Homo sapiens: one gene and its partners. The protein of the gene in region 1 purifies or fractionates together with the protein of each later gene. This does not show direct contact. Each region holds a gene or a part of one and is shown on either strand. Other genes may lie near its edges. The genes, in order: POTEC, FAM83B and FAM83F.

The links.
Region 2: the proteins of POTEC (region 1) and FAM83B purify together in Homo sapiens (affinity purification with mass spectrometry; one large-scale study listed by BioGRID and IntAct). This does not show direct contact.
Region 3: the proteins of POTEC (region 1) and FAM83F purify together in Homo sapiens (affinity purification with mass spectrometry; one large-scale study listed by BioGRID and IntAct). This does not show direct contact.

The regions. Positions count from the first base shown.
Region 1 is NC_000018.10:14,526,594-14,530,245, forward strand, and holds part of POTEC (POTE ankyrin domain family member C), read right to left. Parts: intron 1-3,652.
Region 2 is NC_000006.12:54,849,764-54,853,415, reverse strand, and holds part of FAM83B (protein FAM83B), read right to left. Parts: intron 1-3,652. UniProt on the Homo sapiens protein: Probable proto-oncogene that functions in the epidermal growth factor receptor/EGFR signaling pathway. Activates both the EGFR itself and downstream RAS/MAPK and PI3K/AKT/TOR signaling cascades.
Region 3 is NC_000022.11:40,025,859-40,029,510, reverse strand, and holds part of FAM83F (protein FAM83F), read right to left. Parts: intron 1-3,652.

The DNA of each region.
Region 1 (3,652 bases):
TGACAGCATGCCACACAGCAGCAAGAGCAGGAGCGAGGCCTGAAAGAGTGAAAGTATTTGCCTGCAATAGAAGGAGGAGTGAGTAGGGCATTAAGAGCCACTCAGTAATGCCAGAGAAAGGGCACACAGGGAAAAGGGCTAACGATGTAGAGTAGGGCAGAAGTCAGATTATGAAAGCCTTATGTGTACTTTTAAGATGCTTAGACATTAACGTTCAAGAGTGGTCCCTGGTCCTATCTGTATTTAGATGTAGATCATTTTAATGCCAAAACCAATATTCCTAGTGAGCCATTATTCATTAAGACAAGGTGACAGCTAGCTCATGTGGACACAGCTGAGATGATACTACGTAGCAAATTCTTAATAATTCTCATGAACACTTGGAAAGTCAATTCTATAATAAGTCATAGAAATTATAATAAATCACTTAATATTTGGGAAGGTGCTTTATAAAGTTATAGTGTATATGAATATAACTAATAGTTGTGAATTCAGAGCTGTGACAATAAAGCAAAAAATCACACTGTGTTTGAGTCAGCAATATTTAGATTTCTATCTAGTCTTCCTACCCAGTCCATAAATTCTAAGTATAATCCTAGTACTCGCTCTCAAGTTTAAGTTAAATGCTAGCCTATACAAAAAACACTCTTTCTCTTACTTCTTTTTTGTTATTTATATGTTGCTTTGTTTAAAGGAAGAACAGAAAAATGCCCTGCTAAAGGGATTCTGTTTGGCTGCAGGCTGCAAGAGGGGAAAAACACAAAGCACATTTTGCAGAAAATGATTTTTTAGAAGTCAGAACTATGACATGAAGTCAAGCAGGGCACTCTAGGACTGACTTTGCTGTGCTTCCTTAATATGCTCCTTGCTCTCTTTCTTTTCTGGAAGCTGTGACTCACACAGGTCATGGAGAAAATTTCCTACTCCTTCCTCATGTCCAGGTTAAATACTAGTGTACAACGTGGAAACCTGTAAATTATCTGACATTTCTCTCTGTCCCCCAAACCTTTCTCATTCAATTATCACTAAATCATATTGACTATACCTCTCTTCTTCCTCTGCTTTATATTACCACTGCCACTGAGAACATAAACATTTACAAAATGGCTTTTATTACAAACAACCCTTCCAACTATTAATGTTATTTCTTACATGAAAAAAATTAAGCAAAACAAATGAAAAAAGCATAACACCAAAAAAAGGCCAACACATTAAAATGAGTAACTGAGATTCCAAACTTTATTTTGCCATGGGCAGGTGAAAACCTTAGAATACATTGATACTAGTCCAAGGGTGTGTGACATGGAAACTATAGCTGACTACTGCAAAAGCTTCCTTTGTCTCCTGGTTTCTTTACATGGTTATCTTCCCTCAATCCCAGCAAGCTATAGGCCACAGGCCAAATCCAGTCTGCCTTTTGGCTTTGTAAATAAAGTTTTATAGGAGCTCAGTCATGCCTGTTTGCTTACATATAATCATGGTGGCTTTCACACTACAACAACAGACAACAGCCTGGTTAAGTAGATATGACAGAGACCACATAGTCTAAAATATTTCCCACCTGGTCCTTTACAGAAAAAGCTTGCTAACCCATTTTACACCATAAGCAGAATATGCCTTAATACTCAAATTTAATCTTGTAACTTCCCTGCTCAAATTTCTCCAATGAGCCCCTGCAGCACACATTGTTGGCTCCCTATCAATAGCCATTCCTTATTCTTTCTTGCAGAAGAAACACAAGTCTATTGGGATATTTATTATCCCAATCCCCCTCCTCAGCCTCAGAAAGAGAAATGTTTATTCTAAGTTAATCATGTATTTGCCTTCCCAGTGCCTGGTTTGGGAATGAGCATGTGGTGTGACCCAGCCAATGGAATGTTACAGGAAGCCCCTTGCATGCTTCTAAGTTTTCTCCCTGTTTAAAAGACACATGTGAAGAAAAGCAGCCCTTGAAATGTTGTGTTGTGAGAACAAGATGTTTGGAGCTGCTGCGGATTAGCCAACCATGAAAGGAGACATGAATAAAACACTGCCAACAGCACAGCTGAAAGAGGGACAAGTGGGATCCTAGGATATCACTGAACAACCAAAACAACTCTGGTTCCTACTGTTTTAGCCACTGCTCATCTAGTATTTACAGTCCAAAGCATTGTACCTGGTAAATTTCCCGTGGCCCACAGGGTAAGACCTACTCATTTCTATAGTATTTAAAAAGTCTATCATAAACTTGCCTTAGCTAAGTATTCACCTTATTCCCAACCTCTGGTGTCTCACACTTTTGGTACTAGCAAAAGTGAACTGCTCAGAAACCCTGCAAGGTTCACTCAGCATCTTGCGTTTTGCACTTGCTGCTCTTCCTGCCAAACAGGCAACCTCATTAGATGTTCTTCTGGCAAACACACAATCTTGTTGCATGTTCCTTCTGCCAAACATTATTCTTCTGCTTCTTTACCTAGAAAAATTCTTCTCACTCTGCATGCTTACCTTGAATCATACCTACTTTTTTTCAAAACTTTCATTCCTCATCACATATGTCTGGCACATAATTAATATATAATAAATCATTATTATAAGCTTCCAGTGGGCATCGAGCACACAGTAAGCACTGAATAAAGTAGTAAAATAATAAAAATGACAATGATAATAACAAGCTCCTGTCTGTATTTTTAATTGTGTGTGTTCTGTAACATTAGAAAAATGATTAGTATCTAAAGGACATTTAATAGTTATTTGTTAAGTGGACAAGTGAAAACATAGAAATGTTTTCTTTGTAAATTCTGTTGAAAAAGCACAGAAATGAAATAGAGACAGCTCTACTATGAGCACCTTAAGGATCAAAACTACATCTATTCCATCTTTGTCTCCTGCAACTTATAAAACCTAACTTACAGAAGCTTTTTGATAAATAGATGGCTAAATTAAAGGTGTCCTAATACAGTTTGGATTATACAATGTATTAGGTGTCCACAACCAGGTGGCATACTAGTATTTTTGTTAATGTGAAACATTTTTCTACTTTTATTATAATCTGCTGAGCCTAGAAGTGGGCAATTTGTATATTTATTATGACAATCTTTTGGTAAATGGTAGCAGAGCATCTTGTTCTAACAAAATTACTGTTATCAAGACAATTGACCAGCAGGTAGAAGAACACATCTTGTTCCAACAAAGTAAATGTATCTCTTTCCAACTTCAAATGAGGAGGAATGAAGTCAGTAAGAGTGAGACCTTGTTGGGACAAGGATATGTAACATGACTTGTGCTTTGGCGTTCTTTTGTGATCAAAAATTCCTTACTTTTATTTTTTTATCTACGGTAGGACCACCCAGAGCAGGGGCCCACAACTCTCAGGTCACAGACTGGTACCACTCCATGGACTATTATGAACCACACCACACAGGAGGAGGTGAGCAGCAGGCAAACCAGGGAAGCTTCACCTGTACTTACGGCCACACCCCATGGCTCATATTACCGCCTGAACTCTGCCTCCAGTCAGATCAGTGATAGCACTAGATACTCATTGGAGCATGAACCCTGTTGTGAACTGCTCATCTGAGGGATCTAGGTTGTGTGCTTCATATGAGAATCTAATGCCTGATGATATGTCACTGTCTCACTTTGCCCCCAGATGAGACCATCTAGTTGCAGAAAA
Region 2 (3,652 bases), on another chromosome or scaffold:
AGCTTTGAAACCAGGCATTGACTTCCCCTCTCTAGCTCTGAAATACTAGATGGCATCTTCTTCCACTAGAAGGCTGTGTCACCTACATTAAAAATGTGTTGTTTAGTGTCACTTTGTTCATCAATTATCTTAGCTAGATTTTCTGGATAACTTGCTTCAGCTTCTTCATGAGCACTTGCTGCTTCACTTTGCACATTTACATTTTGGAGACAGCTTCTTTTCTTAAACCTCAGGAACCAACCTCTGCTAGTTTCATACCTTTCTCCTCCAGCTTTCTCATCTCTCTCAGCCTTCACAGAATTGAAGAGAGTTAAGGTCTTGCTCTGGATTAGGCTTTGGCAGAGAATGTTGTGGCTGGCTTGATCTATCCAGGGGTGTCTAATCTTTTGGCTTCCCTGGGCCAAAAAGGATTGTCTTGGGCTACGCATAAAATACACTAACAACAATAGCCAATGAGCTTAAAAAAAGAAAAAAAAATTGCAACAAAAATCGAATAATCTTTTAGGAAAGTTCACAAATTTGTATTGGGCAGCATTCAAAACTGTCCTGGGCTATATATGGCCTGCAGGCCACAGATTGAACAGCCTTGAATTCTAGACCAATAAGATTTTCTCCCTATCAGCAATGCCATTTTACTCTCTCATGATGTGTGTGTTTACTGGAGTAGCACTTTTAATTTCCTTCAACAACTTTTCCTTTGCTTTCACAATTTGGATAATTGTCTAGTACAAGAGATTTAGCTTTTAGCCTATCTCAGCTTTCAACATGACTTCCTCACTGAGCTTAATCATTTCTAGCTTTTGATTTAAAATGAGGGCATGCAACTCTTCCATTCCCTTGAACATTTAAAGGCCCTGGTAGAGTTATTAAGTGGCCTAATTTCAATACTGTGCCCAAGGAGTGGGAAAGGCACAGGGGAATGGCCAGTTGGTGGAGCAGTCAGAACACACACAACATTTATAGATTAAGTTCACTGTCATATGTGCACATGATTTGTAGCACCCCCAAAAAATTACAAGAGTAACATCAGAGATCAATGATCACCAAAAAAAGATATTATAATAATGAAGTTTGAAATATTGTGAGAATTATCAAAATGTGACACAGAGACACAAAGTGAGCATGTGCTGTTGGAAAAATGGCACTGACAGACTTGCTTAAGGCAGTGTTGCCAGAAACCATCAATTAGTAAAAACACAATTGCTGCAAAGTACCATAAAGCAAAGCACAATAAAACGAGATATGCTTCTAATTTTACTTGTACAGATTTTTAGAATACCAAAGTAGAGAACTGTGCTGATAAAGATGACAGACAGAAATAAAGAACTGTAAATAGGCCAGGCGCAGTGGCTCACACCTGTAATCCCAGCACTTTGGGAGGCCGAGGTGGGTGGATCACAAGGTCAGGAGTTTGAGACCAGCCAGGCCAACATAGTGAAACTCCGTCCCTACTAAAAACACAAAAATTAGGCCGGGCGCGGTGGCTCACGCCTGTAATCCCAGCACTTTGGGAGGCCGAGGCGGGAGGATCACGAGGTCAAGAGATCGAGACCATCCCGGCTAAAACGGTGAAACCCCGTCTCTACTAAAAATACAAAAAATTAGCCGGGCGTAGTGGCGGGCGCCTGTAGTCCCAGCTACTTGGGAGGCTGAGGCAGGAGAATGGCATGAACCCGGGAGGCGGAGCTTGCAGTGAGCCCAGATCTCGCCACTGCACTCCAGCCTGGGCGACAGAGCGAGACTCCGTCTCAAAAAAAAAAAAAAAAAACACAAAAATTAGCCGGGCATGGTAGCGCCTGCCTGTAGTCCCAGCTACTCGGGAGGCTGAGGCAGGAGAATCACTTGAACCCGGGAGGCAGAGGTTGTGGTGGGCCAAGATCACGCCATGGCACTCCAGCCTGGGCAACAGAGTGAGACTGTGTCACAAAAAAACAAACCAAACCAAAACAAAACAAAACAAAATGTAAATAAATAGGTAGTTCAACAGATGGTGAAATGGACAAATAAATAGAAGTATGAAATGGGAGATGAGAAAGAAGAAAGATGAACGGGAAAAAAAGTAAATCAGAAGGACTCAGAAGGGATAGATAAAAAGAGAAGGTAAGTGAAGAGAAAAACATAATGGGAGGGAAGAGAAGAGAAGCATAAAAGAAAAAAGAAGGAAGAGAAGGGACAAAAGGAGGATACAAAGGATGAGATGTGACAAAAAAAGATGAAAAGGCCAATAAAGATGAAAATGGAAAGGAAGGGTTGAAACTAAAAAAAAGAATCACAGGGGAACACTGTAAACAGTTACTTACTCTAAAAACAACTTAGCTATATTGCACTCATCTTTAAACAAATAAGTCAGAAGTTACATTTGAGAAAAATACAGCACTTTTTTTTTTTTTTTTTTTTTTGAGATGAGTCTCACTCTGTCACCCAGGCTGGAGTGCAGTGGCGCGACCTGGGCTCACTGCAAGCTCTGCCTCCCAGGTTCAAAAAATTCTCTGCCTCAGCCTCCCAAGTAGCTGGGATTACAGGCACCCGCCACCACGCCTGGCCAATTTTTGTATTTTTAGTAGAGACGGCGTTTCACCACCTTGGCCAGGCTGGTCTTAAACTCCTGACCTTGTGATCCACCCGCCTCAGCCTCCCAAAGTGCTGGGATTACACGTGTGAGCCACTATTTCCAGCCGTTAAAATATAGTACTTTTAAAACATCTGTTGAATGAGTCTTATGAGACTAGGTATTTGGAGTAACATGCTGTTAAGAATTAAAGCCATCATTGCCAGTGTGTATATATAAATGACAGCCCAAACATCTTATGTTGAGTTATTCTATTACCACCATTGAGATGGAAGATGACACTCTTTAGTGCTTTGAAAACTGCCTTTTCTTCTCCAAGTAGTAATGTTTATGTAATCAAAGAAGGAATCTGATGTTAAAGAACGAAAACCTTTTGAAATGAAAATTTGGCCAAAGAAGTGGAAATAATAAGCTTCACAGTGATACTGTGGGGAAACCTTAGTTAACATTATTTTATGATACTCTCAATAAGAAGTGATCACAGAGAATTTCAGAGCAGTGTGGGTGGGACACAGGAGTGACCACATAGTCTAAACCTTTCACAATACCAGTGAAAAACCTGCAAGCCTAAAGAATGTTAATACTTTGTCAAAAAACATGACTATCCCAGGGCTGCTAATGTTCAATTTCACAAATGATTAATGAACACAAACAACGTCTGCTGTGACCTTCAGAGAATAGGAAGGAACTACAAAAATCAGTGGACTTGATCCATTTATTTATTTGTGTACTTATAATTATCATTAGGTTCCTAAACTGGAAGCTTCCTAAGATCCAGGAATATATTTTTACTTTCCTACCCCTGGAGAGGAACATATTGCTTGGCAGATAATGGTCAATAAATATGTTTAATCAAAGGGATAGTGTAAAAGAGCACAAAGTTAGAGCCATTAGATAATCATCATCACTGCATAACTTCTCTATAAACTCTTCAACATAGGCCCCTGCCAGTAACCGGGAGACTACACCTGACTCTATGTCAGTATGCAAGAGAGGCTGACCATGACTAATTTAAGTTTCCCATGGACCAGTAATCTACAAATTATTTAAGACACAGCTGAAAAGATAAATGTCATGTGCCCT
Region 3 (3,652 bases), on another chromosome or scaffold:
GAGGCAAGGGACAGAGGCGGGGAAGGATGTAAGTGAAACGCTTGGTGGATTCAGCTTCAGTTCCTACCCTGTGTGCTGTCCACATCTCCAGTTGAGGGGCTGGGGTCACTGTCTCCCTCCCAAGCTGCTGATCTGGAAACCAAGTCAATAGGGCACCCGGGAAAGTAGAAGGGAAGATTCTGCCTGTCTCAGCAGCCTCGGCAGGAGCCCCACTGGGTGGGACATCAAGGTGACAGCCATCTCCTGACCAAAGAGGGGTCGGGGAAGGATCCAGGCTGCAGAATCAATGACAACAACCATCAAGTCCAAAGTCTTGGCTGCTCTGTCTACAGACTAGCCATTCTTTTGTTTCTTTACTTTTCTAATAAACTTGCTTTCACACACACACACACACACACACACACACACACACACACACACACACACACACGTCTAGCCAAGAGGCCGCTCACTACCAGCTAGTACATGCAGCTCCACCGCCTGCAAAGTAAGACTGCGGTCCTTCTCTCTGGTTCCCCTCCCGGGCTGCCGCATTCTACCGCTGAGGTGCCCACAGCTCCCAGAGCCAGCCAGCGACAGTGCCAGAACCTGGCCTTCCCGGTCCAGTTCCAGCTCCTTCCGCCACAGGCCGCCTAGGCTGGAAGAAGGAAAGCTGGCGCCTCAGGAAAGGCTGGCGCTGGCCAAGAGCTGCCACCGTGGGGTGGATCACACTGCTTAGGACGCGCCTTTGAAGGGAGGACAGAGAGGAACGCGCTGCCTGTAGGGAGGGAAGGGGGAGAGAAAGCTGTCCCCCGCCCCCGGCCAGAGAAGCTGATTTCTCTTCTTCCCCAGGCCTCTACCATTCCTTCCCACTCTCTTTACAGTCCTGAGATGAGGCCTGCGGTTCCTTTGGCTGGATTCCTGCTCTCGGACCTCCGGAGGGAGTGCAGGGGAGTAGCGAGGCAGGCCTGACACCTGCAGGCCTGCGAGGTGTCAGGCGCTGGAGCGGGGAGCCCATGTCCTCGGAGCGCTGGCTGCCTTTCCCCAGGTGGAAGGCGCTCGTGTTATTTCCTGCCAGTTCCCCTCCACACAGCAAGGGCTGCCTCTCTGGTGCTCACACAACCTTCCAGTATCACTTCAGCTGTGAATTTAATTAAGGCCATGTCTGCCTCCTCTCCTGGGCCATGAGCAGGACCCACTGAACAGAGCCCAACTTGGAGCCCTGCCCTGCCACACAGGCTGCTGCTCCTGCCCACTGCACTGTGACCCACGGCCTCGGGCCTCATCCATCCAGGCAGACTGAACGAGCTCTTCAGGACTGACCACAAATCCAGCTGCACCCTCATTAAGGGTGTTCCCCCACCTTTGGGCAGGAGGCTGCGCCCCAAGGGCTCCATGGCCAAGGCGCTGGGGGTCACTTTCCGCAGTGGTGCCGAGCACGTCTGGGGCGGCTCTGCTAGTGGGATGAAATGCGGCCATCTTAGAGTCACTCACTGCTGCAATGGACACATTCGTCCCCATTTCCCCCCATCAGCTGGTTTGATTTGCGTGGCCCACTAAGCAGATGTCAGTTCCTCCCCAGAGGCAGCAGCATTTTGGAGGCAGGTAAGCAAATCAACCTCCAGATCGTTAAACAGGGGAGGCGGTGTAGCTGGGGGTGGGATGGTGGTGGGTGGTGGTGGGGGTAGCTGCTTCCCAAGCCTGCACACCACCCGGCTGGCTGCCTCCGGGAGAAGCCTGGCAAGGCAGGGGCAGGGCCCATCTTCACCAGCACCATGCTCCCCACTTTTTTGTAAGGCAGGGTGAAAGCCTGGAGACAGCACCTAGACTCAGAATTCATTTCCTAGCCCCGGACAGGACAGAGAAACTGGCTTGGCTTGAGGACAAACTCTGTGTCCCTTGTCATTCCCTGAGTGCTCACATATTGGGAGCTGACCACGTGTGGGGAGTCAGCCCTGCTCAGGTGAACAGGGAAGGTGTATAAATGACCAGAATAGTCTTTTTTACAAAGTATGCGTGGCCTGGGAGCTTCAGAGGTGACGCCAAGGTGGAGCTGAAAACGGGTGCAGGGTGGGAGGAGGGGCCGCTCAGCGGAGCGGAGCCATGTGACATAAGCATGGGGTGAGGGTGGCAGCCTGGGGCACTCGGGACCTGCAGTCAGTCTGGTTTGCTGGCAGGTGAGGTGGTGCGGGAGAGAGGGAGGCAGAGGTCACCCACATGGAAGCCATGACAAGGACAATGATGTGCAAACCGCATGCACAGGCTCCAGGGCTTCGCATTCCCTGTATCTGGAAGAATCTTCCCTCAGATGTCCACAGGGCCCTCTCCTTCCATTGAAGTCTTGCTCCGAGGCTCCTTGGTTAGAGAGGCCTTCCCTGGCACCCTTTATAGAAGGGTCATCCTCCCCTAATCCTCGTCTCTCCCCAGGGTAACATGCTCCATAAAAGCAAGGACCATGTTCATTCTGTTCACAGCTGTGCCAGGAACTTAGAGCAGGGCCTGGCACAGAGCAGACACTTCGTAGACACATATTTATTGAATAAAATGCATGAGACAGCAACGGCGAGCTACTTAGGGGTTTAGCACAATCCTAGTAACAACAGTAATAACAGCAGCAGATGCCCCAGACGCAGCAAGAGCAAGAGAGAGATCTGAGACCTGCGGCCCCAAGGGATGACACAGGAGAACAAGTCCCCCAATCCAGCGGCCCAGCAGCCACAGCTCTACAGAGCCAGACCACACTGCCAGCCAGGGGGCCAACCACACATAAATCCAGGGACCCCAGGAGAGTTCTGGAAAGGGACTGTCACTGCAGGTCACCTCAGAGAAACTGGGAAGCAAAGCACAGGCCCAGGGACTCTGGGGCAGGAAAGGACCCCGAGGCACTCTGGGAAGCAAGTTGCTGCTGTCATCTTCCTCTCGGCCCCCACAACACCGTGGGAAAGGGCTGGTCCTCTATTTGGGGCTCTGGTTCTTCCGAACAGTTTTTTGTTTTGTTTTGTTTTGTTTTTTGAGACAGATTCCTACTGTGTCACCCAGGCTGGAGTGCAGTGGTGTGATCTCCACTCACTGCAACCTCCACCTCCCGGGTTCAAGAGATTCTCCTGTTTCAGCCTCCCGAGTAGCTGGGACTACAGGCAAGTGCCACCATGCCTGGCTAATTTTTTGTATTTTTAGTAGAGACAGGATTTCACCGTGTTAGCCAGGATGATCTCGATCTCCTGACCTCATGATCTGCCCACCTAGGCCTCCAAAAGTGCTGGGATTACAGGCATGAGCCACCACGCCGGGCCCAAACAGTCTTTAAAGGTGCAGGGAAACGGTGCCGATCCTAGCCTTCTGGAGATGGCCATGATATCTGCAGAAGGCTGGGGAGGCAGGAGATCACACTGCCCTTTCTCCCTGGGCAGCCACGGACACAGGGCCTGGCCTCTCTGAACCTTGGGGGTCTCATTGTGAGATGCTGTCATCAGGCAGGATGGCAGCGAGGAGGACGCCAGTTCCATGTGATGGAGTATGGCACCATGTCTCTCGCCACTTCAAAAGTGTTGGCCATTTCCCAGTCATCTCCCTGGGGGAACTGGGTGGGGTCTCAGGCACAGCACAGGGATCTCCTCCCCTAGGCTGGCAGCACTCAAAGGGCAGGGCCTCATCTGTGTTTCCTCAGTCGCCA